3 linked regions of the Homo sapiens genome follow. The protein of the gene in region 3 interacts with the protein of the main gene of each other region in a biochemical or structural test. Each region holds a gene or a part of one and is shown on either strand. Other genes may lie near its edges.

Region 1 (7,023 bases), on a different chromosome or scaffold from region 3:
TCCCCAGCCCAGAGAGTTCCTGCTGCTTAGTTCAGGCCATCTGGCTGCGGCTGGACGTTTATATGTGCCAGCCTACAAGCTTTCCTCTTCCCATGTAGGGAAAGGTTATTTTAGTCAGATGCCAGTGCCTGGTGCCTTGTGTGTCTAACCCGACGGGTGGGTGGTCACTTGCTGCAGCTGCCCTGATGCTGTGGTTGTGGGGCTGCCAAGATGTGGCTGGAGAGCACTTTTCCTCATAGGGAGGAGTCCTAGGCCCAGAGACCACACCCAGTCAGGGAGGCTAAGGCAGCTTCTAGGGGGAAGGGACGGGGTAGGGGAATTTGCTTTGCTACAGAATTGCCTGCAAACATCTAATCTAGTCTGAATTTTTGGCTGTGTAGACCAGGCCAATGGGGGACGGGCCAAGACCAGATTTTCCAAATGTACTTGCATGACCAAGTTCTGCGTGGTAGATGGACCTTGGATAGGCAGCCTCGTTCCACTCCCTTCTTGCAAAGCTTCTGGCTTGATCTACTGGGGAACATGAGTGCCTTAGCTGTGGGGTGGTGTGAGAGTATTATTGCTCTGGGTTTGAGTCCATCTGAAGTCTCCCTAGCTCCGTTGTGCTTACTGACCCTCCCCTCTGGATGTCCCCAGAGGTGCTTGTAAGCCTGCAGCCAGCTCCATCTCAGGGCCACAGTCCACCTGGCTCTGGTCAGATCCTCTGGGGATCTCCAGGGTGAGACCAGTCAGAAGGAGAAGGGGGCACAGAGGGAATGGCCAAGAAGCCAACCCTGCCCTGTCTGCAGCCTGGCTTAGAAAGCCCCTGCATCATGGGGAGGAGCAGGGGGCAGCCAGGCCCCTTGCCCTGGATAACTGAGGGCACTGAGGTGCCTGCTGCTTGGGAACACCCTTTGCCCTATGCCTAGGGGTCAGCACAGCCCGGGGATCCTTGGGCAAGGCTGGGGGCAAATGAACTTAGACTGTAATTTTGTTCTGAAACATGAGGTTTATACAAAGAGAAAGAGGATGAAAGGGGCCTGTCAAAAGACCCCATAACTTGGAATGGGGCTTTATGCCATTGATTTACTCATCAAGTGGTTAGTGCCTCCAAAGTACCAGCCTCTGTGCTGAGCATGTGCAGGTGTCCAGCAAGAATTGCTGCCTCTGAGACACTGAGGACTCAACATCTGTCATCTCTCTGGTTTCCACTGTACCTCCAAGAGAGGAACCATTGCCAGTGGGGGAAACTTGGGCATGGTAGTCAAGAACTCACAAGGATACAACATAACGAAGACTCCTAATGCCCGCGATGGCACTGCTGTGAGGGACAGAAGGCTGGTGCCCTGGGGACAGGGCTGTGTGGAAGCAGACATAGACAGGACTTGGAGGTGGTGGGGTGGAAAGATGGGTCACTGGGGAGCACCCAGGAGGCCGGGTCTGCAAATAAGCAAGCATCTGAGCCTTTGGTCACCAGCTGGCGAATTTGGCTGCATGAGAAAAGAAATACCAGCGATCGCTTTATTGCTTCTATGTTTTTTGTTTATATGCTCCCAAGAGAGATTTTTTTTTTTACCTATGACCAAAAATAGATCAAAGGAGGGTAGTCATAGCAAGTGGGGGAGTGAATGTCTGGATTCAAAACAGGTTACTTAATACAGCTCTGTCTGTGGGCTCATGGGTGTCACAATAACAATGACAATGATGATAGTATTAGCTACCGTTTGCTAAGCACCTACTGCGTATCAGGCACCTGACTCGGTGCTTTACATACATTACCTCACAGCCAGGTTGGCAAATGGTCATTTTGACACACACACACAGGGAATACAGGTGGATCTTTTGCAGGTTTTTGCATTTCCCCTAGGTGACCGGTTTAGAGGGGTGCTTTGGCTGGGCCTTCAGATAAAGACTGGGAGGAGAGCCCTGTGGCCTGGCCTGGTCCCTTCGTAGCATACTCTGCCCCAGCTTCACACACAAAGGAGACCTGACCCAGCAAGGGTCTCACTGTGCCTGTCAGGATGCCACCACGTGGGGGCTGCCAGCCCTGCAATCCAGCCACCTCCTGGGCTGGGGACCCTCCCAGCTCCCACCTGGGGCTGCCAGAGGGGAGAATCCCAATGGCCCCTGAGTTCATGGCCATGTTTATTTTGAGTAAAACATGAGGGAATAAACCAAGGAGCAAGGGGGCAAAGCCAGAATAAATTATGAAATAATTTTCTAAAAGATGGTCAGCAGAATCCCCGCAGCTGTGAAACAAAAAGCTCTGTCATCTACAACAGTGCTTCCTCGAACGCTGGACCCTTGAGACATGTGACGGGACCTGAGGGCAGCCACCGGGCTGGCGGGGACCTCTCCGAACGCTGATCTCAAAGAGGGTGGAAAGACCTTGAGGCGGGGCAATCCGTGAGGTTGCTTTCTTGCTGAAGATGTGATTTGGACATTTTACGTGAAAGCAGTGCCTGGTGCTGGCAGTGACACCCGGGTGGCCACAGAGACGTGAGGGATGACAGGCGGCGGTGGGGATGTAGTGGCTGTAACTATGGGAGGTGCCAGGGAGGTGATGCAAATGCTGGATGTGCTCTCGGTCCACTCATGCCTCTTGAATTTGCCAGAAGGTGTGACCGTCTCCAGACAGCGAGGGAGTGAGGATAATAATATAATCTCAAGTGATAGTCGTGACAGGAACCCCACGACGTGTTCTCCCCTGAATGAGCTGGGATCAGGGCCTCTTAGCGAGTGGAGTGTTGGAATACAACTGTACAAAGAAGAGAGGGCTGTAAACAGGAGCCTCCACCGGGCCCAGCCCAGGCTCTGTGGACTCTTTCTTTCTGGTCTCCCCATTCACCCACCGAGTCTCCCCACCATCGCCCTTCATTGCCCTCACTCTTTCTCCTTCACAGTGACCAAGTCTCCTCGTAAGGAAACTCTGTCCGCAGATGTGGAGCGCCGCCGCCTGCCTGTGGGGTCCGCGGGCCCAGGCCCTGGACCTGCGGTAGGAACGGTCAGGAGGACTGCATCAGGCCCGTGAGGCGCTTGCCCGCCAGCGACTTTCCCTGCAGAGAGACAGCGACAGAGAGGCACGCACAGGCGCACACACAGAGGGACAGAGACAGAGAGCCAGACAGGTGAATTAATTGTTGCATGAGCCATGTAGGCCAAACGACCAACCAACCCAACTGACCATCTTGATATTTGATCTCTAGGTGTATGGGAGCCTTAACTTTGGACAGCTGGAGAAACCAGGGCTCCAGGGAAGGTTCAGGGAGTCCTGGAGGGTCCCCTTATGAGGGTGTGTTGTTGGTACTCTTTTTGTGGTATGGGAATTTTACTTACCAAAAACCAGGTATTTAAACCTTTAGGTAGAGCAATTTTTAATGCCGGCGGGCTGCCCTGAAATTGATTTTGTTCACGTGGGGGAGGAAAAGGTGGACTTGGGGTGTTCTGAGATCAGGGACGGGGGCTTGACTCAAATAGAGGGTGGCCAAGGATCTGGCTGATCAGAAGCTAATGAATGAACTAGTCTTAAGAAGGCAGAGTCCTGTTTGGAATGCAGGGTAGACACAAAGACCTTGAGTCCTCTTGATGACCAGTTCTGGGACCATGAAAGTGGGGGGCATTTGCTGGGGCTCAGAGCCACTGTAGGCCCCAGGGCAGTGCACTCCTGCTGTCTCCTATGTTCTTGGCTTCCCATCTGTGGCACCCAGAGGCAGAGTTTGATGACCCCATACCAGGAAAGCCTACAAGCCCTTCAACTATAACCCATGTGGCAGTTCTTCTCAAAAACTAAAACAGTGAACTGGATCATGAGGCCTGGTGCATCAGCCATAGAGGTGCCAGGAGAGTCCCGTTGTGTATGTGCCCTGGAGAGATGGCGGAGAAGCCCCTGATCTAGGAGGGGAGTTGCGACTGGGCACCAGGAGGAGGGTGAGGGGCACGAGCGAGGCTCCGTCGCTTTGCTTATTGCCCTTACATAGTGTGTGCCCGTTCTCCAGCTCACCCTCTTTAGAAATCCGCATCATTGCACAGGGCTTTAGAGGACAGTATGGCTAGACCCAGGCAGATTGATCACTGTGTCTGGGAAAGCACTCCAAACCCATATTATTGACAGTGGGTCAGCGACACCACCGCCATCTGTGAAGGGCAGCACGTGATAGCTCGTCAGCATGGGGCTGCAGTGTTTGGCCGTGAGATTGCAAGGGCCAGCGATTCCTCATGTTCATTTCCAAGTGGGGTGTGAGGGCTCGTCTTGTTTACTGGGCTTGGCTGCGTGTAAGCTAGATGTAATTTAAAAAATTGATCAGGTTTGTGAAGCCTGGTAGGGTCCTCAATAAACCTGCTGATTGATGAATTGATGGATAACGGGTTTATCTAATAAACAACACGGGCTGTGGATTTGCTGGATACAGGACAATGTGGCATCTGGCTTAGATCTCCATGGAGAGGCATGGCCAGCCTGACTTTGAGAATTCTGGTGCTATAGATGGGAGTTTGTCCAAAAATGAAATTGCCCTCAGGAGCTGTCAGAAAGTCTGCCTTTCCCTACCTCTCCTTGACCTTTTTCCTCCCCATTGCTTTCACTCCCCATTTTCACTAGTGAGACAAAACTTTTCATTTTTTCTCCCCATCTTAAACACACACACACACACACACACACACACACACACACACACACGTCCACAAAATCACCCCATCAGCAACCTTATCTGAATCTTCAAGTGCACTAAACTTAGCCTGCAGCAGGATACATTTATACTTGGCTAAGGAGTTTTTAATCAGATTTTTAAAAAATCCAAGAGGGTTATGGTGTCAGTCTTTGAAAATCACTAAGAATGACTACTCCTTTGTCTAGACCAGGTTAGGTACAACAATAGCTCTTAGAAGGCAGAGGCTGACCTTCAAGGGCTCCCCCCAGCCCCGGGTTCTGTGGCACACACCCAGCGGTGACTCTCCTTGAGTGCCCTTTCTTACATAGAGTGTGAGGCATTTGTCACTCGGGAATGTGCCTTCCTGGGGCAGGCCTGAAGGCAGGAAACATGGGGGTGTGGGGCATCCTTGCTGGGGAAACACGGGGCTGCTGAGCCTAGGGGCCTCCTTGTGTGAGAGCTCTTACAAACCTCCCCTACCCCCGGTTACCTATGTCCATCCCTGTCCTATGAAAGGCACAAAGGAAGTTTGCTCTCCTTTTAGGTGCCACTTATTGCTGTGATAACCACCACACACCAATATCAGGTCCTCCTCCTCCTCCCATCCCTCCTTCGCCAGGGCCACAAATCACACATTATGTACCCAAATATATATGTTCTGAGTTTGCTATCCACAGCGTTTGGGGCTCTCATTTAGCTGGTGGATGGGAAAAAAAAAATCACTCAAGCTTCTGAATAAGAGTCTGTTGCCAATGAGTACATTCAAAGCCCAGAGACAAAGGAGGTGAGGTTTACCAGTTGCCCAAACCTTCACTGCAGCCTCATTCCTATTAACAAGGTTATTTTGGCTGGAGAGGGGACTGTGGGTTGAGGGAGGTTGGAGATTCTATTTCTGGAGGATTATGTGTCTATTTGTTTTAGGTGAATTTGGCCCTGAGGCTTCCATACCCTCAACCCTTCCCCTTTCTACAGAATGGGCTGGGCTGGGCTGGGCTTGAAGGTGCTAATTATTCTCTTCCTGACTAAATCCTGGAGCTCAGCCTCACCGCTCTGACTCCAAGGACCTGTGGCCAGCCTGTCACTGCCCGCTCCTCGCTTCCCCCGACTGCTTTTATTTCCCAGGATTTCAGGGTAGGATGGTGCAGCTGACCAGCTTAGGGGCCACCCTTGGGATTGTTCCCAACCTCTCAGCAACCCAGGCGGTGCTGCTTGGCATTTTTGTCTCCCTCTCCCCACTCCTGCTTTCGCGCATTTACCAAATGCCAGCTTGCTGCTAAAGATGGAGGTCATGAGGGTTCAGGTCGGCTTGAGAGGCAGCTCAGCCCAGCTGCAATCTACTCGCTACCCAGTGACCTCCCGCGTGAGTGAGGGCAGGCTCAGACTGGAAGGCGGTTAATCATGCAGGATGCGGGCATGGGTAGATGCCTGGCCCGGGGCTTTGGGGAAGAAATACTGCAATCACACTTGCTCAGCAGCTGCTTCCCTTCTGAAGAGCTGAGACTCCTGTAGTTTTCAGTGATCAAAGTGAAATCTGATAGTAGAGGCTACCTGTGTTCAGAGATGAGCTGCCCCAAAGTGCATGCCCCTATAGGCTTGCAGGAAGCTCCCGAGGAATCCGCTGTGCCCAGAGAGAGGGGAGCTCCTGCCTGTACCCTCCAGGGCACTGCCCCGTCTCTTTACTCTCATCTCTGTCTCCAGTTTGGATGATCCTGAAGGAACCACTTCAGAAGGGGAATGGTAATTCTGCCTGCCTGTGTCTGGCATTTGCATAGTTACAGAGGAAGCAGGTTTTTTTCAGGGTGTGAGTGTGTAATGTTCCTCAGTGTTGGTCAGTTGGGAATGGATCATGGTGCCAGGAAACCGCAGCCAGCTCAGCCCGAGGCCTTGGCGTAGCTGAGCGAAGCAGCTGAGGATGGTTGAAAATGCTATTAGCAGGCAGCCTTTGTCCAAGTGAAAAAATATACAGTGATTAAGAACTGAGCTGCAGAAGGTACATTCCAGAGACACCAAAGCTTTGCATACCGACAAAGTGCTTTTCACCTTTGAGACATTTGGCAAAGTGTAATCCAGTAGAATTTGGGATCCTTCAATTTCATGGACCATGGGCTCAGTGCTGGGTTCACTAACACCCACACATTCAATTCCCACCCTCCGCTCTGATTAATCATTTCAGCTCTGTGGCCATCTTGATGGCTAGGAGCCTGGAAGAAGGTGGTCATGGAATCCTTTGTTTTCTGAAAGGAAACACACAAAAGGAATAGCCCCCTTTTGTGCAGTGAGAAAAATCAACATGCTGCTTGACATGCTGTGGCTCTGTGCATTGCACTTCCACATATTAATCAACAAAGCATGCACTATCTGGGTTACCAAGAGCTTTTGCCACTTACTTACCTGGGAG
Region 2 (7,023 bases), on a different chromosome or scaffold from region 3:
CCACGCCCAGTTAATATTTGTATTTTTAGTACAGATGGGGTTTCACCATTTTGGCCAGGTTAGTCTCAAACTCCTGACCTCAGGTGATCCGCCGGCCTAGGCCTCCCAAAGTACTGGGAGTACAGGCATGAGCCGCCGTGCCCAGCCCACCGCTTAATTTCAAGATTAATCAAATATGACTTCAAAACAGATCAATTTTTTTTGAGACAGAGTCTCGCTCTGTCACCCAGGCAGGAGTGCAGTGGCGCAATCTTGGCTCACTCCACCTCCTGGGTTCAAGTGATTCTCCTGCCTCAGCCTCCTGAGCAGCTGGCATTACAGGTGTGTGCCACCACACCCAGCTAATTTTTGTATTTTTAGTAGAGACCGAGTTTCACCATGTTCTCCAGGATGGTTTCGAACTCCTGGCCTCTAGTGATCTGCCCACCTTGGCCTCCCAAAGTGCTGGGATTACAGGCATTAGCCACCGCACCTGGCCCAGATCAACTTTTTTTAACCCACCTCCTGCACAAAAAATGGTCAATTTTTAAGTTGTAAAAATTATTCAACATGTACAAAGTCACCTCTTAATTTCAAGATTAATCAAATACGCCTTCAAAGGAAATCAACTTTTAACCCACCTCCTGCACACAAAAAAATCAGTTTTTAAGTTGTGAAAATTATTTGACATACACAAAGATAAAAAGGCACTATTTTAAAATTACTTGAAGTCAATGCACTTCTAATTTTTGGAATCCAGTTAAGTATCGTAACTAAATCTGGCATTCTTGTTGAATTGGAATGGGTGATAGGAAATGCCTACTATTTCACTTTTAAGTGTATATGCAAGAATTAGTCATGCTTGGATTTGGAGTAAATTCCAGTCTATCATTGCTCTGGCACACTTCAATTACCACATAGAAAGTAAAATGCAGGGCTGGGTGCGATGGCTCACACCTGTAATCCCAGCACTTTGGGAGGCCGAGGCGGGTGGATCACAAGGTCAGGAGATCAAGACCATCCTGGCTAACATGGTGAAACCCCGTCTCTACTAAAAATACAAAAAATTAGCCGGGCGTGGCGGCGTGCGCCTGTAGTCCCAGCTGCTGGGGAGGCTGAGGCGGGAGAATGGCATGAACCCAGGAGGCGGAGCTTGCAGTGAGCCGAGATAGCGCCACTGCACCCCAGCCTGGGCGACAGAGCGAGACTCCATCTCAAAAAAAGAAAAGAAAAGAAAAGAAAGTCAAATGCAATGGCAAATCAAATCCAAAGCCCTAAAGAGTTAAGTGCCCTTGGCCAGGCGCAGTGGCTCATGCCTGTAATCCCAGCACTTTGGGAGGCCGAGGCGGGCAGATCACAAGGTCAGGAGATCAAGACCATCCTGGCCAACATGGTGAATCCCATCTCTACTAAAAATACAAAAATTAGCTGGATGTGGTGGCACGTGCCTGTAATCCCAGTTACTCAAGAAAGGCACAAAAATCGCTTGAACCCAGGAGGCGAAGGTTGCAGTGAGCCAAGATAGCACCACTGCACGCCAGCCTGGGCAAGAGTGAGACTCCTTCTCAAAACAAACAAACAAAAGAAACAGAGTTAAGTGCCCAAGAGAAGAGTGAAAACTTAGCAATGTAAATCTAGAGCATATCAGCATTAAATTAGGATGGCTGAAACAATACATAGAATATTTATAGTAACACCTGGTAGTTTCTTCCAATGCACATATATAATAAATAGAATCATGGAAGCTTTTTCTATTACCTAATCATTTTACAGCCTTGTAGATTTAACAAACTAAAATGAAAACTGAATCTCCATTCCATAGCTTGCTAAGTAATTTTTGATGTTCTCTTTCTCCTCTGTCTTATACGTGAAACTCCAACAGATTTAATATTGGCATTTATCATCTAGTCAAATCCTTCAGATGCTCTTTAAACCAGTCCAGTTTGAGACTCTCAAGCGTTTCTCTGTTAATAAGGAGTGAAATTAGTAGATTTGATGAAGACCTGGTTTTTTTCCTTGCCACATTGAACTTCTAGGCACCATTTGGATTCGGTTTTAGTGTATGGGTTGGAGAACTGTAGCTGTTTCTTGACCTGCCTCTTAATGGTAGAGATGTAGAAGGGCAAGCAAGACCACAAGGAGACCGGCTGTAGGCTGTAGGGCACTGTTGGAGGGCTTTGTGGTTTCGGCTGCAGTAGCTTCCGGCATACTGGTTAAAGGAACAAATGAAGAAACCTGCACGGGTAGGAGCAGCGCCAGAAGTAGCAGACCCAGAATGAGCATCGCCACCATCCCCTTACCCATTTGGATCAGTGTGCCGTGTGTCCAGCTTGCTGCTCAGTGTGCTGGAGGATGGGTGGCTCCTGGCTGGTGCAGGGGAGATAGCAAGTAGGGTCTTATATTCAAGGGGCATCATAATGGCAGTGACATCACTCCCTTTCCTCCTACATCCAGACAAGTACTTTGTTTCGAAACAAAACATTTAAGTTGCTTAGAAAGCCTGGACCTTATTAATTACAAATCTATAAAAAGGCAGATTTCGAATCTTTTTTTCCCAAGTGGCGTGATTTTTCCCTTGGTTTTTTTTTCTGTCCCATATGACCTTCAGAAATTTTTCTTGATTCTTAAAAGTGATGCAAATTTTTTGTTAAAAGTTGTTAGCACAGGGTATGAGAAGAGGTTTTTACCCAGAGATAAGTATTATTGATATTTGGTATATTTTCATATAGTACATATACATGTATTTACACAGTAAAGATTGTACTTTTGTATCCAGAATTTTGGGTTAACAATTATTGTGAGCATTTTCCTGTCATTAAAAATGTAAAAGGTATGGTTTCATTAACTTCTTAAAAAGTTTGTGGCCGGGTGTGGTTGCACTCGCCTGTAATCCCAGCACTTTGGGAGGCCGAGGCGGGCAGATCATGAGGTCAGATTGAGACAATCCTGGCTAACACGGTGAAATCCCATCTCTACTAAAAATACAACAAAATTAGCCAGGCGTGGTGGCGGGCGCCTGTAGTCCCAGCTACTTGGGAGGGTGAGGGAGGAGACTGGTGTGAACCCGGGAGGTGGAGGTTGCAGTGAGCCGAGATTGCACCACTGCACTCCAGCCTGGGCAACAGAGCGAAACTCCGTCTCAAAAAAAAAAAAAGTTTGCACACTGGCCAGGTGTGGCAGCTTATGCCTGTAATCCCAGCACAGTGGGAGGCCAAGGCAAGTGGATTACTTGAGCTCCGGAGTTTGAGACCGGCCTAGGCAACGTGGCAAAACCTCATCTCTACCAAAAACACAAAAAATTAGCTGAACTCCATGGCACATGCCTGTAATTCCAGCTACTTGGAAGGCTGAGGTGGGAGAATCAATCGAACCCAGGAGGCAGAGGTTGAAGTGAGCGAACATTGGGCCACTGCATTACAGCCTGGGTGACAGAGTGAGACCCCCATATCAAAAAAAAAAAAAAAAAGGAAGAAAGAAAGAAAAAAAGGAAAAAAGGAATGAGATATTCATGAAATACAACGGATGAAACTCGGAAACTTTTTTTTAAAGGTTGCACACCAAGTTTGGTGTGTGTAGTTTTATCCCTACTTTTTGTTTTTCACTATTCTTACGTACTTACAGAGAAGTTGTAAAGACAATACACCATGGTATTATTCCTAGTTGGTTCTAGGTGATGGGGATTTCTATATTTTCCAACTTTTCCATATTGGTCATATTTTTATTTTTATTTTACTTGATTTTTTTTGAGATGGAGTCTCGCTCTGTCCCCCAGGCTGGAGTGCAGTGGTGCGATCTCAGCTCACTGCAACCAACACCTTTCAGGTTCAAGCAATTCTCCTGCTTCAGCCTCCCGAGTAGCTGAGATTACAGGCACGTGCCACCACGCCCGGCTAATTTTTTGTATTTTTAGTAGAGACGGGGTTTCACCATGTTGCAGGATGGTCTCGATCTCTTGATCTTGTGATCTGCCTGCCTTGGACTCTCAAAGTGCTGGGATTACAGAGGTGAGCCACTGTGCCAGGCCTATTTTTGAGACAGGTCCTCACTCTGCCACCCATGCTGGAGTACAGTGGCGGGATCTCGGCTCACTGCAACCTTCATCTCCCAGGGTCAAGCAATTCTCCCACCTCAGCCTCCCTAGTGGCTGGGATTATAGGCGGCGCCGCCACCCTTTTGGTAGAGAAGGGGTTTCACCATGTTGCCCAGGCTGGTCTGGAACTCCTGAGCTCAAGCGATCTGCCCACTGTAGCCTCCCAAAGTGCTAGGATTACAGGCATGAGCCACCGCACACAGCCTGGTTATATATTTCTTGTGCAAGTTGAACTGGTAGTTTTTTAAGGGACAGGATTAATGGAATTCAAGTTATATAAGCCAACAAGGAAATTGCCTTGTAAGAAAAGCCTAAAGGAAAAAGACAGTAAGAATTAAAGACTCAATACACTAAGTTCATGGTTAATGACATAGCACTTATGTGAATGGGAACTGATCCTCTTTGAGAGATTGGGAAGAGTAAAAAGAATACTTTTTACTAATGTTTGAAATTTGCTGGCTGGATGCAGTGGCTCACGCCTGTAATCCCAGTACTTTGGGAGGCTAAGGTGGGTAGATCACAAAGTCAAGAGTTCAAGACCAGCCTGGCCAACAAGGCAAAACCCTGTCTCTACTAAAAATACAAAAATTAGCTGGGCGTGGTGGCGTGTGCCTGTAATCCCAGCTACTTGGGAGGCTGAGGCAGGAAAATTGCTTGAACCTGGGAGGCGGAGGTTGCAGTGAGCTGAGATAGCGCCACTGCCCTCTAGCCTGGGCAACAGAGCAAGACTCCGTCTCAGGAAAAAAAAAAGAAAAGAAATTTGGGAGTGAGTTATAATAAGAAATTAGAAGAAGTTTTTAAAAACTTTTTTTGCATTTTCTTATGAGCTTGAAGAGAAACTTGACTCAATATCCTATTTGTCCTTTATTTTCAAGATATTTTCTTTATTAATTAATTAATTAATTTTTTATTTGAGACAGAGTCTCACTCTGTCCCCCAGACTGGAGGGCAGTGGCGTGAAAATGAGATACATGTGCATTACATGCAAGTTTGTTATATAGGTATATGTGTGCATGGTGGTTTGCTGCACCAAGCAATTCTTTTGTTTGAGCCTCCCAAATAGCTAGGACAACAGGTGTGCACCAGCACGCCGAGCTAATTTTGTATTTTTAGTAGAGACAGGGTTCCACCATGTTGGACAGGCTGGTTTTGAACTCCTGGCCTCAAGTGATCCTCCCGCCTCGGCCTCCCAAAGTGCTGGGATTACAGGCGTGAGATAAATATTTTCTTTATATTCCAGAATATAAAAACTTACTTTCTCTTTGCTTTTCCTAAGCCACTGCTTCCTGCCTCTTCAGGAATCTGATTCTCTTTTTCAGAATCTTTAGGGGACAACCTAAAGAATTCTCCAATTCCTTTTTGCCACTTGGGAGTTGGGCGCACGCAAACGGGGTTCCCTCCTGCATATTTATTTTCAGCTGTAAAATATAAACAGATGGAACTAGATAAGTGCTAATAATACAATCTCTATTCCTTAAACAACTTAATTCCTTCTTTAACATCAAATTCTCAAAGGTATTAAATAATCTTTATTTAAGATATACAACTTAAAGAATTAGAAAATGTGACACAATAAAGCTGTATTCCACCAATAAACTCAGTGTGATGGTTATCTTAGCAATAACAGTAGTAACAGAATTTTTACAACTGAAAAATATTTTTATATTTTGTCCACAAGCAGAGCTATTCAAATACTCTTGCCGGGTCCAGTGGCTCACGCCTGTAATCCCAGCACTTTGGGAGGCTGAGGAGGGTGGATCACAAGGTCAGGAGTTCGAGACCAACCTGGACAACATGGTGAAACCCCCGTCTCTACTAAAAATACAAAAATTAGCTGGGTGTGGCGGCACGTGCCTGTATTCCCAGCTACTTGGGAGGCTGAGGCAGGAGAATCACTTGAACCAGCGAGTCGGAGGTTGCAGTGAGCCAAGATTGCGCCGCCACTGCACACTCCAGTCTGGCAACAGAGCGAGACTCTGTCTCAAAAAAAAAAAAAAAAAAATATATATATATATATATATATATATATATATATATATATATATATATATTCTTGTATGTACTGACATACTGAAGTTTGACACACTTTTTCCTAACATAAGATAGGACCATGTAGTATAAAGTGCCAACATTTTACTTACTAAGGTCATTTAGTTAAAGCACATATAAGAGGCAATGTGAAAGTCTCCACAAAAGTAGATTCCATTTTTCAAAGCACCTGGCTCCTTTTCAGTTCATAAGAGAAGTCCAATTCCTGGTGTTTTTTTTTTTTTTTTTTTTTTTTTTCAAAGTCTAGCTCTGTCACCCAGGCTGGAGTGCAGTGGCGCAATCTTGGCTTACTGTAACCTCTGCCTCCCGGATTCAAGTGATTCTCCTGCCTCAGCCTCCCGAGTAGCAGGGATTACAGGCGCCCGCCACCACGCCCAGCTAATTTTTGTTTTGTTTTTGTTTTTTTGGGGGGGAGACAGAGTCTCACTCTGTCACCCAGGCTGCAGTGCAGTGGCACGATCTTGGCTCACTGCAAGCTCCGCCTCCCGGGTTCATGCCATTCTCCTGCCTCAGCCTCCCGAGCAGTTGGGACTACAGGCGCCCGCCACCACACCTGGCTAATTTTTTGTACTTTTAGTAGAGACAGGGTTTCACCATGCTAGGATGGTCTCGATCTCCTGACCTCATGATCCGCCCGCCTTGGCCTCCCAAAGTGCTGGGATTACAAGTGTGAGCCACCCTGCCCGGCCAATTCCTGGTTATTTTTCAACAGTAATATAAGGAGAAATTGAGGGAAAATTCTTGCCTTTTTATAAAGTAATGACCAGGAACAAATTATTCAGTTACTGCAAATCTTTTGCTTTAAGCTAAAACATTTGCTTTAACAACTCTAGTTGTTAAAGAATGCTTACAAAAGTTGTTTCCATATAGACTCTGAAGTTATATTGTTTCTACTTATTTATTTA
Region 3 (7,213 bases):
TGCGATTACAGGCACCTGCCACCATACCTGGCTAATTTTTTTGTATTTTTAGTAGAGATGGGGTTTCGCCACGTTGGCCAGGCTGGTCTCAAACTCCTGACCTCAGGTGATCTGCCCATCTCAGCCTCCCAAAGTGCTGGGATTACAGACGTGAGCCACCGCGCCCAGCCTTCTAAAAAATTTTTTAAGGATTAACTTGGGCATGGTGGCATGTGCCAGCCACTCAGGAGGCTAAGGCAGGAGGATTGCTTGAGCTCAGGGGTTCAAGGCTGCAGTAAGCCATGACTGTGCCACTGCATTCCAGCCTGGGTGACACAGTGAGATCCTGTCTCTTAAAAAAAAACTGAAAAAAACAAGCTAAGTTAGCCACTAGCATGTGAACCTTTATGTGCCATGCATATTCTCATTTAACCCAATACCAGCTGAAAACCCATGTCATTATTCCTAGACTATGGATATAGAGGTGGCATACGCTTGTTTAAGGTCATTGAGCCAGTGGAGGTCATGTTTTCAAGAAGGCTGGGCAGGCTGGGCATGGTGGCTCACACCCGTAATCCCAACACTTTGGGAAGCTGAGGCAGGAGGATCGCTTGAGGCCAGGAATCGAAGACCAGCCTGAGCAACATGGCAAGACCCCATCTCTACAAAATAAAAAAAAGGAATAAAAAAGGAAGGCCGGGCCCAAACTTCTCTGAATTGGGTGTAACATCATGAAGCCAGGCACTTTCATAATTTCACTTCCATTCCATTTTAAATCAAGTTTTATTTTGGGAGAATACTGGCACAGATGATTCAAGAAGATATATACCCACTAACTGGTTAAGAAGTGGTTTGACTATAATCCCAGCACTTTGGGAGGCTGAGGCAGGTGGATCACGAGGTCAGGAGTTCGAGACCAGCCTGACCAACATGGAGAAACCCCGACTCCACTGAAAACACAAAAATTAGCCAGGCGTGGTGGTGTGCACCTGTAATCCCAGCTACTTCGGAGGCTGAGGCAGGAGAATCACTTGAACCCTGAAAGTGGAGGTTGCAGTGAGCCGAGATCACGCCACCGCATTCCAGCCTGGGTGAAAGAATGAGACTCCATCTCAAACAAACAAACAAAAAAAAGTAGTAGTTAAGGCATGATGGCTCATACTTGTAATCCTAACCTTTGGGACACAAAGGCAGGAGGACTGCTTGAGGGCAGGGGTTTAAGACCAGCCTGGGCAATATGGTGAAACCTCACGTATACAGAAACAAAAACTAAGAAAGTCATCTGGGCATGGTGGTGGGCGCCTGTGGTCCCAGCTACTCAGGAGGCTGAGGATCCCTTAAGCCCAGGAGTTCAAGGCTACAGTGAGTTATAATTGTGCCAGGGCACTCCAGCCTGGACAACAGAGTGAGACCCATCTCTAAAAATAAAAAGTGTTTCTTTTTTTGAGACAGGGTCTCACTCTGTCACCCAGGCTGGAGTGCAATAGCGCGATCTCAGCTCGCTACACACAGCCTCAACCTCTGGGGCTCAAGTGATACTCCCACCTTAGTCTGTTGAGTAGTTGGGACCACAGGCGCACGGCACTACTCCAGGCTAATTTTTGTATTTTTAGTAGACATGGGGTTTTGCCTTGTTGCCCAGGCTGGTCTCAAACTCCTGGCTCAAGAGATTCGTCCGCCACTGCCTCCCAAATTGCTGGGATTACAGGCATAAGCCACAGCACCCAGCCTTCAAAAAAAAAAAAAAAAAGAAAAGAAAAAAAGCGGGGGTTGAACCAAATATCCATCCCTCCCCAAAGACCCAAATCAGAACCGGACTGGCCCAACCAGGTCAGTTAACAAGCCTAAGGAAATAGAAAAATGGCAAAGAGTGCTTTCACAAATCCAGCTGGAAGTGTCCACGCCTGGTGAGGGTTCCTCTGACTCACGCACACCTCACTTGAACAAGTTTTCAGGAATGAACTGATGGCGTTCATGAACAAGGGGCTGGGACCAGTGCTCCCACTGATCCTTGTGCACGGAAGTTGGACAGAGGCATGAACTGCTAAAGCCAGGGCCTCCAACATTAGACACACACTAAAGAACACACCCATGAACACACACAAACACACACGAAAGTGTAGCCAGTTCTCATTAGCAAGACTTCCCTGATGCCCACGGCTCACAGGCACAGATTTACAGGAAAAGACCAACCATGCAGCCTTCACGCTTCCCGGGCCCTGCGCTGCAATGCACGGTTAAAGTTCCTGCCAAAACATGGACTTTCCCAAGGAGCAAGAACCACACAGTCCCAACTGACAGAATGAGTACCCCACGGAAGGCTGGGCTCTCGAACATGAGCCAGCCCAGCCCAGGCCCCGACGGGTGACATCCGTCTCTGGAGGCCGCCATCGAGATGCACAGCTTTGGGGGAAAGGCACTGAGGGACCCCCCACCACAGAAGCGCCCCCGGGGACCGGGCCGGACACCGGAAGTGGAGGCCGAAGTGCCGGTGCCCGAGGGGTGTCCGTTGGCCGCGGGCTGCCCACTTCCTGTGCGACCAAGCTGGAGTCAAGAGCCCGGCCCACCGCTGCTTGAAGAAGGGGACCCCGGAAACGAACCCAAAGCTTGCTGTATTTGGGGATCAAAAGAGAACCCCCACCCCGCCTAGTTTCTAGCCACCAGGGAGCTACGGGGGAATCCACGGTCCATTTTGGCGCCAAACAGCCCGGGCACGCGCGACCGGAAGTGCCACCCTGCCCGCGCCAACTGCCGCTGCGCGCCGCACCACCCCACGCATGCGCGCCCGTCTGTCAGCAGCGGCCACCGGCCACCCCGAGGGGAAGCGACCCCCCACCCAGCGCCCTGCCTGTCCCCCTGAGTCCGTGTTCCCCCCCATGGTACCTACCGCCTGCGGACATCGTCGGGCAGCGAGATGGCCGGGACGGCCAGTGTGGGCACCCGGGCTGGGGCGGTACGCGCCGGCATCTCGGAGGCTTCAGCAGACGCGGCGGCGGCAGCGCAGGCGCCCCGGCTTTTCGCGCGGAAACCGATGGGGAGGGGCGATGAGCGGAGGCGGCGTCTACCACCCCAGTCCGGGCGTGGGGGAGGAGGGGATGTACCAAACGGAGAGAGGCGATACCCTGTGCAGAAGGATGGAACGGAGCCGGCCATGCCCAGGGAACACGCATGCGCAAGGCGGGCACACACCCCCCCCACGCGGAGCAGTGGGCTCGTCCAAGCTCCACGGTTTGCTGGGAGGTGGGCACGGTGCCCGAGGCATTCATTCATTCATTCTTTCAGGTGTGATGGGGATAAAGCAGCGAGAAGCCCCCAAGGGTTTGTGAGAGCCCTTGAGTAAAGTCCTCAGTTCCAATCCAACCTCCATCTATTTGCTGGCTATACGACCTTAGGTGGGTCACTACGGCTCAGCCTCTGTGTCCTCATCTGTAAAACGGGGTAATTGCACCTACTCTAGAAAATCTTGAGTATACACAGAATTTGTAGCTAGTACCAAGAATCTCACAGTGTATAGAGGCCCATGCCACTTCTATACCCAGTGTGTGGGGGGTTTTTTGTTGCCTTTTTTAAGCACCACGTGGCTCACGCCTGTCATCCCAGCACTTTGGGAGGCCAGGGTGGGAGGATCGCTTGAGCCCAGGAGTTTTAGACCAGCCTAGGTAACATAGAGAAACTGCATCTCAAAAAAAAAAAAAAAGAAAGAAAGAAAGAAAGAAAAAAAGAAAAACAAAAATTAGCTAGTCGTTGTGGCATGTGCCCATAGTCCAAACTACTCCAGAGGTTGAGGCAGGAAGATCACTTGAACCGGAGAGGCAGAGGTTGCAGTGAGCCATGATTGTACCACTACATTCCAGCCTGGGAGACAGAGCAAGACCTTGTCTCAAAAAAATAAAAATAAAAAGTAAGAATAAATTAAGAAGCACCATGTCAGGCGCAGTGGCTCACGCCTGTAATCCCAGTGCTTTGAGAGGCCCAGGTGGGAGGATCGCTTGAGGTTAGGAGTTCAAGACCAGCCTGAGCAACATAGGGATACCCCATCTCTACAAAAAATACAAAGATTTGCTGGGCATGGTGACACACACCTGTAATCCTAGCTACTTGGGAGGCTGAGGTGGGAGGATGGCTTGAACCCTGGCAGTGTAGGCTGCAATGAGCCATGATTGGGCCACTGGACTCCTGCCTGGGCGACAGGGTAAGACCCTGCCTCACTCTGTCACCCCGGCTGGCGTGCAGTGGTGAGATCTTGGCTCACTGCAACCTCTGCCTCCCAGGTTCAAGCGATTCTCATGCCTCAGCCTCCCTAGTAGGCTGGGATTACAGGCGTACTCCACCACGCCTGGCTAATTTTTGTATCTTCGGTGGTAGAGACAGGGTTTCACCATGTTGGCCAGGCTAGTCTGGGACTCCTAGCCTCAAGCAGTCCACTTGCCTCAGCCTCCCAAAGTGCTGGGATTATAGGCCTAAGCCACCGTAACCAGCCAGAATTTTTTTTTTTTTTAAAGCACCAGAACATGGGGGAAAGATTGTGTCTTTAACAAATGGTGCTGAGAAAACTGTATAACCACATACAAAAGAATGAAGTTGGACCCTTACCTTACACCATATACAAAAACACAAAACTTATTAAAGATTAAACATAAGACCTGAAACTATAGTGCTCCTAGAAGAAAACATGGGGAAAAGCTTCATGACAATGGATTTGGCAATGATTTCTTGGATATGACAGCAAAACACAGGCAACAAGACAAAAGATAGACAAATGGGTTTGCAACAAACTTAAGGATAGCTATACAGCAAAAGAAATGACCAACAGTGAAAAGGCAACCTACAGAATGGGGAAAAAAAAAGTTTGCAAACTGTATTATCTGGTAAAGGGTTAATATCCGGAATATATGAAAAATTACAGCCAGGCATGGTGGTTCATGCTTGTGATCCCTGCACTTTGGGAGGCCCGGGTAGGCAGATCACTTGAGCCCGGTAGTTTTAGACCAGCCTGAGCAACATGGCAAAACCTCGTCTCTACCAAAAAAAGAAGAAAAAAATTATATAAAAAATAAATTACTACCCGTCAGGCTTGGTGGCTCACGCCTGTAATCCCAGCACTTTGAGAGGCCAAGGCGGGTGGATCACCTGAGGTCAAGAGTTTGAGACCAGCCTGGCCAACATGGTGAAACCCTGTCTCTCCTCAAAATATAAAAATTTGCTGGGCATGGTGGTGTGCCTGTAATCCCAGCTACTCGGAAGGCTGAGGCAGGAGAATCACTTGAACCTGGGATGCGGAGGTTGCAGTGAGCCGAGATTGCACCATTGCGCTCCAGCCTGCGCAACAAGAGAGAAACTCTGTCTCAAATAAAAATTTAAAAAATAATAAATTTCTACAATGCAACAACAAAAACTCGATTTACAAATGAGCAAATGGGCTGGGTGCGGTGGCTCACACCTGTGATCCCAGCACTTTGGGAGGCCCAGGCGGCAGGCGGATCACGCGGTCAGGAGATCGAGACCATCCTGGCTAACGTGGTGAAACCCCATCTCTACTAAAAATACAAAAAATTAGCCAGGCGTGGTGGCAGTCGCCTGTAGTCTCAGCTAATCAGGAGGCTGAGGCAGGAGAATGGTGTGAACCCAGGAGGTGGAGCTTGCAGCAAGCCGAGATTGCACCACTGCACTCCATCCAGCCTGGGCAACAGAGCGAGACTCCGTCTCAAAAACAAACAAAAAGAGCAAATGATTTGAATACATACTTTCCCAAAGGAGATATGCAAATAGAAAACAGGCATATGAAAAGATGCTCAACATCACTGGTCATCAGGGAAATGCAAATCAAAACCACAATGAAATATCCCTAAGACCCCTTAGAATGGCCACTGTCAAATAATAAGTGTTGGTGAAGATGTGGAGAAACTGGAACCCTTGTGCACGGTTGAGAGTCGAATAAAATGGTGGAGCTGCTATGAGAAACAGCATGGAAGTTCCTCAAAAAAATTAAAAATAGAATTATCATATGATCCAGCAATCCCATTTCTGGATATAAATTCAAAAGAATTGAAAAGAGGATCTTAAAGAGATATTTGCATACCCGTCTTCATTGCAGCATTAGTCACAACAGCCAAGAGACAGGAAAAAAAAAAAAAAAGATCATATTGCTGCTAAGAGATGGGGTCTTGCTGTGTTGCCCAGGCAGGTGTCAAACTCCTGGGCTCAAGGCATACTCCTACCTCAGCTTCTTAAGTAGCTGGGACTACAGGTATGTGCCACCACAATGGGCTAACTTTTTATATTTTTTGTAGAGACAGGATTTCTCCATGTTGCCCAGGCTGGTCTCAAACTCCTGAGCTCAAGCGATCTGCTGGCCTTGGCCTCCCAAAGCGCTGGGATTACAGGTGTAAGCCACTGCACCCAGCCTAATTCAGTCTTTAAAAAAGAAAAAATGGCCAGGTGCAGTGGCTCACACCTGTAATCCCAACACTTTGGGAAGCCAAGGCGGGTGGATCACCTGAGGTCAGGAGTTCGAGACCAGCCTGGCCAACATGGAGAAACCCCATCTCTACTAAAAATACAAAATTAGCTGGACATAGTGGCTCATGCCTATAACCCCAGCTACTCCGGAGGCTGAGGCAGGAGAATTGCTTGAACCCTGGAGGTGGAGGTTGAGGTAAGCTGAGATTACACCATTGTACTCCAGCCTGGGCAACAAGAGGGAAACTCCATCTCAAAATAAATAAATAAATAAATAAATAAATAATATAAAAGTAAAAATACAAAATTAGCTGGGTATGGTGGCATGCACCTGTAATCCCAGCTACTTAGGAGGTTAAGGCAAGAGTACTGCTTGAACCCGAGAGGTGGAGGTTGCAGTGAGCTGAGATCACACCATTGCACTCCAGCCTGGGTGACAAGAGTGAAACTCCGTCTCCAAAAAACAAAAGAAAAGAAAAAATATCTTATTATATGCTACAACATGGATGAACCTTGAGGACATTACGCACAGTGAGAGAACCTAATCACACAAAGACAAATACCATACAATTCCACTTATGAAGTATCTAAAGTAATCAAAATCTTAGAAACAGAAAGTAGAATAGTGGTTACCAAGGCCGGGGGGGAAGGAGGAAAAGGAGTTATTGTTCAAGAGTTTCAGTTTTACAAAATGATTCCAGAGATCTGTTGCACAACAATGTGTATATACTGAACTGTACACTGAAAAATTGATAAGATGGTAAATAAAATACTA

Evidence for each region. The genes of interacting proteins can lie anywhere in the genome.
Region 1: the proteins of DNMT1 (region 3) and RGS6 form a complex in vitro, tested with the Homo sapiens proteins (one study listed by BioGRID).
Region 2: the proteins of DNMT1 (region 3) and PCLAF interact in a test that uses a peptide from one of them, tested with the Homo sapiens proteins (one study listed by BioGRID).

The regions. Positions count from the first base shown.
Region 1 is NC_000014.9:72,558,429-72,565,451, reverse strand, and holds part of RGS6 (regulator of G-protein signaling 6), read right to left. Parts: intron 3,036-7,023; coding exon 2,985-3,035; coding exon of another isoform or gene 2,863-2,984; 3' UTR 2,738-2,862; coding exon of another isoform or gene 2,425-2,737; 3' UTR 1-2,424. UniProt on the Homo sapiens protein: Regulates G protein-coupled receptor signaling cascades. Inhibits signal transduction by increasing the GTPase activity of G protein alpha subunits, thereby driving them into their inactive GDP-bound form. The RGS6/GNB5 dimer enhances GNAO1 GTPase activity.
Region 2 is NC_000015.10:64,371,419-64,378,441, forward strand, and holds part of PCLAF (PCNA-associated factor), read right to left. Parts: intron 5,488-7,023; coding exon 5,325-5,487; intron 1-5,324. UniProt on the Homo sapiens protein: PCNA-binding protein that acts as a regulator of DNA repair during DNA replication.
Region 3 is NC_000019.10:10,191,954-10,199,166, forward strand, and holds the start of DNMT1 (DNA (cytosine-5)-methyltransferase 1), read right to left. Parts: upstream 3,001-7,213; 5' UTR 2,947-3,000; coding exon 2,867-2,946; intron 1-2,866. UniProt on the Homo sapiens protein: Methylates CpG residues. Preferentially methylates hemimethylated DNA. Associates with DNA replication sites in S phase maintaining the methylation pattern in the newly synthesized strand, that is essential for epigenetic inheritance.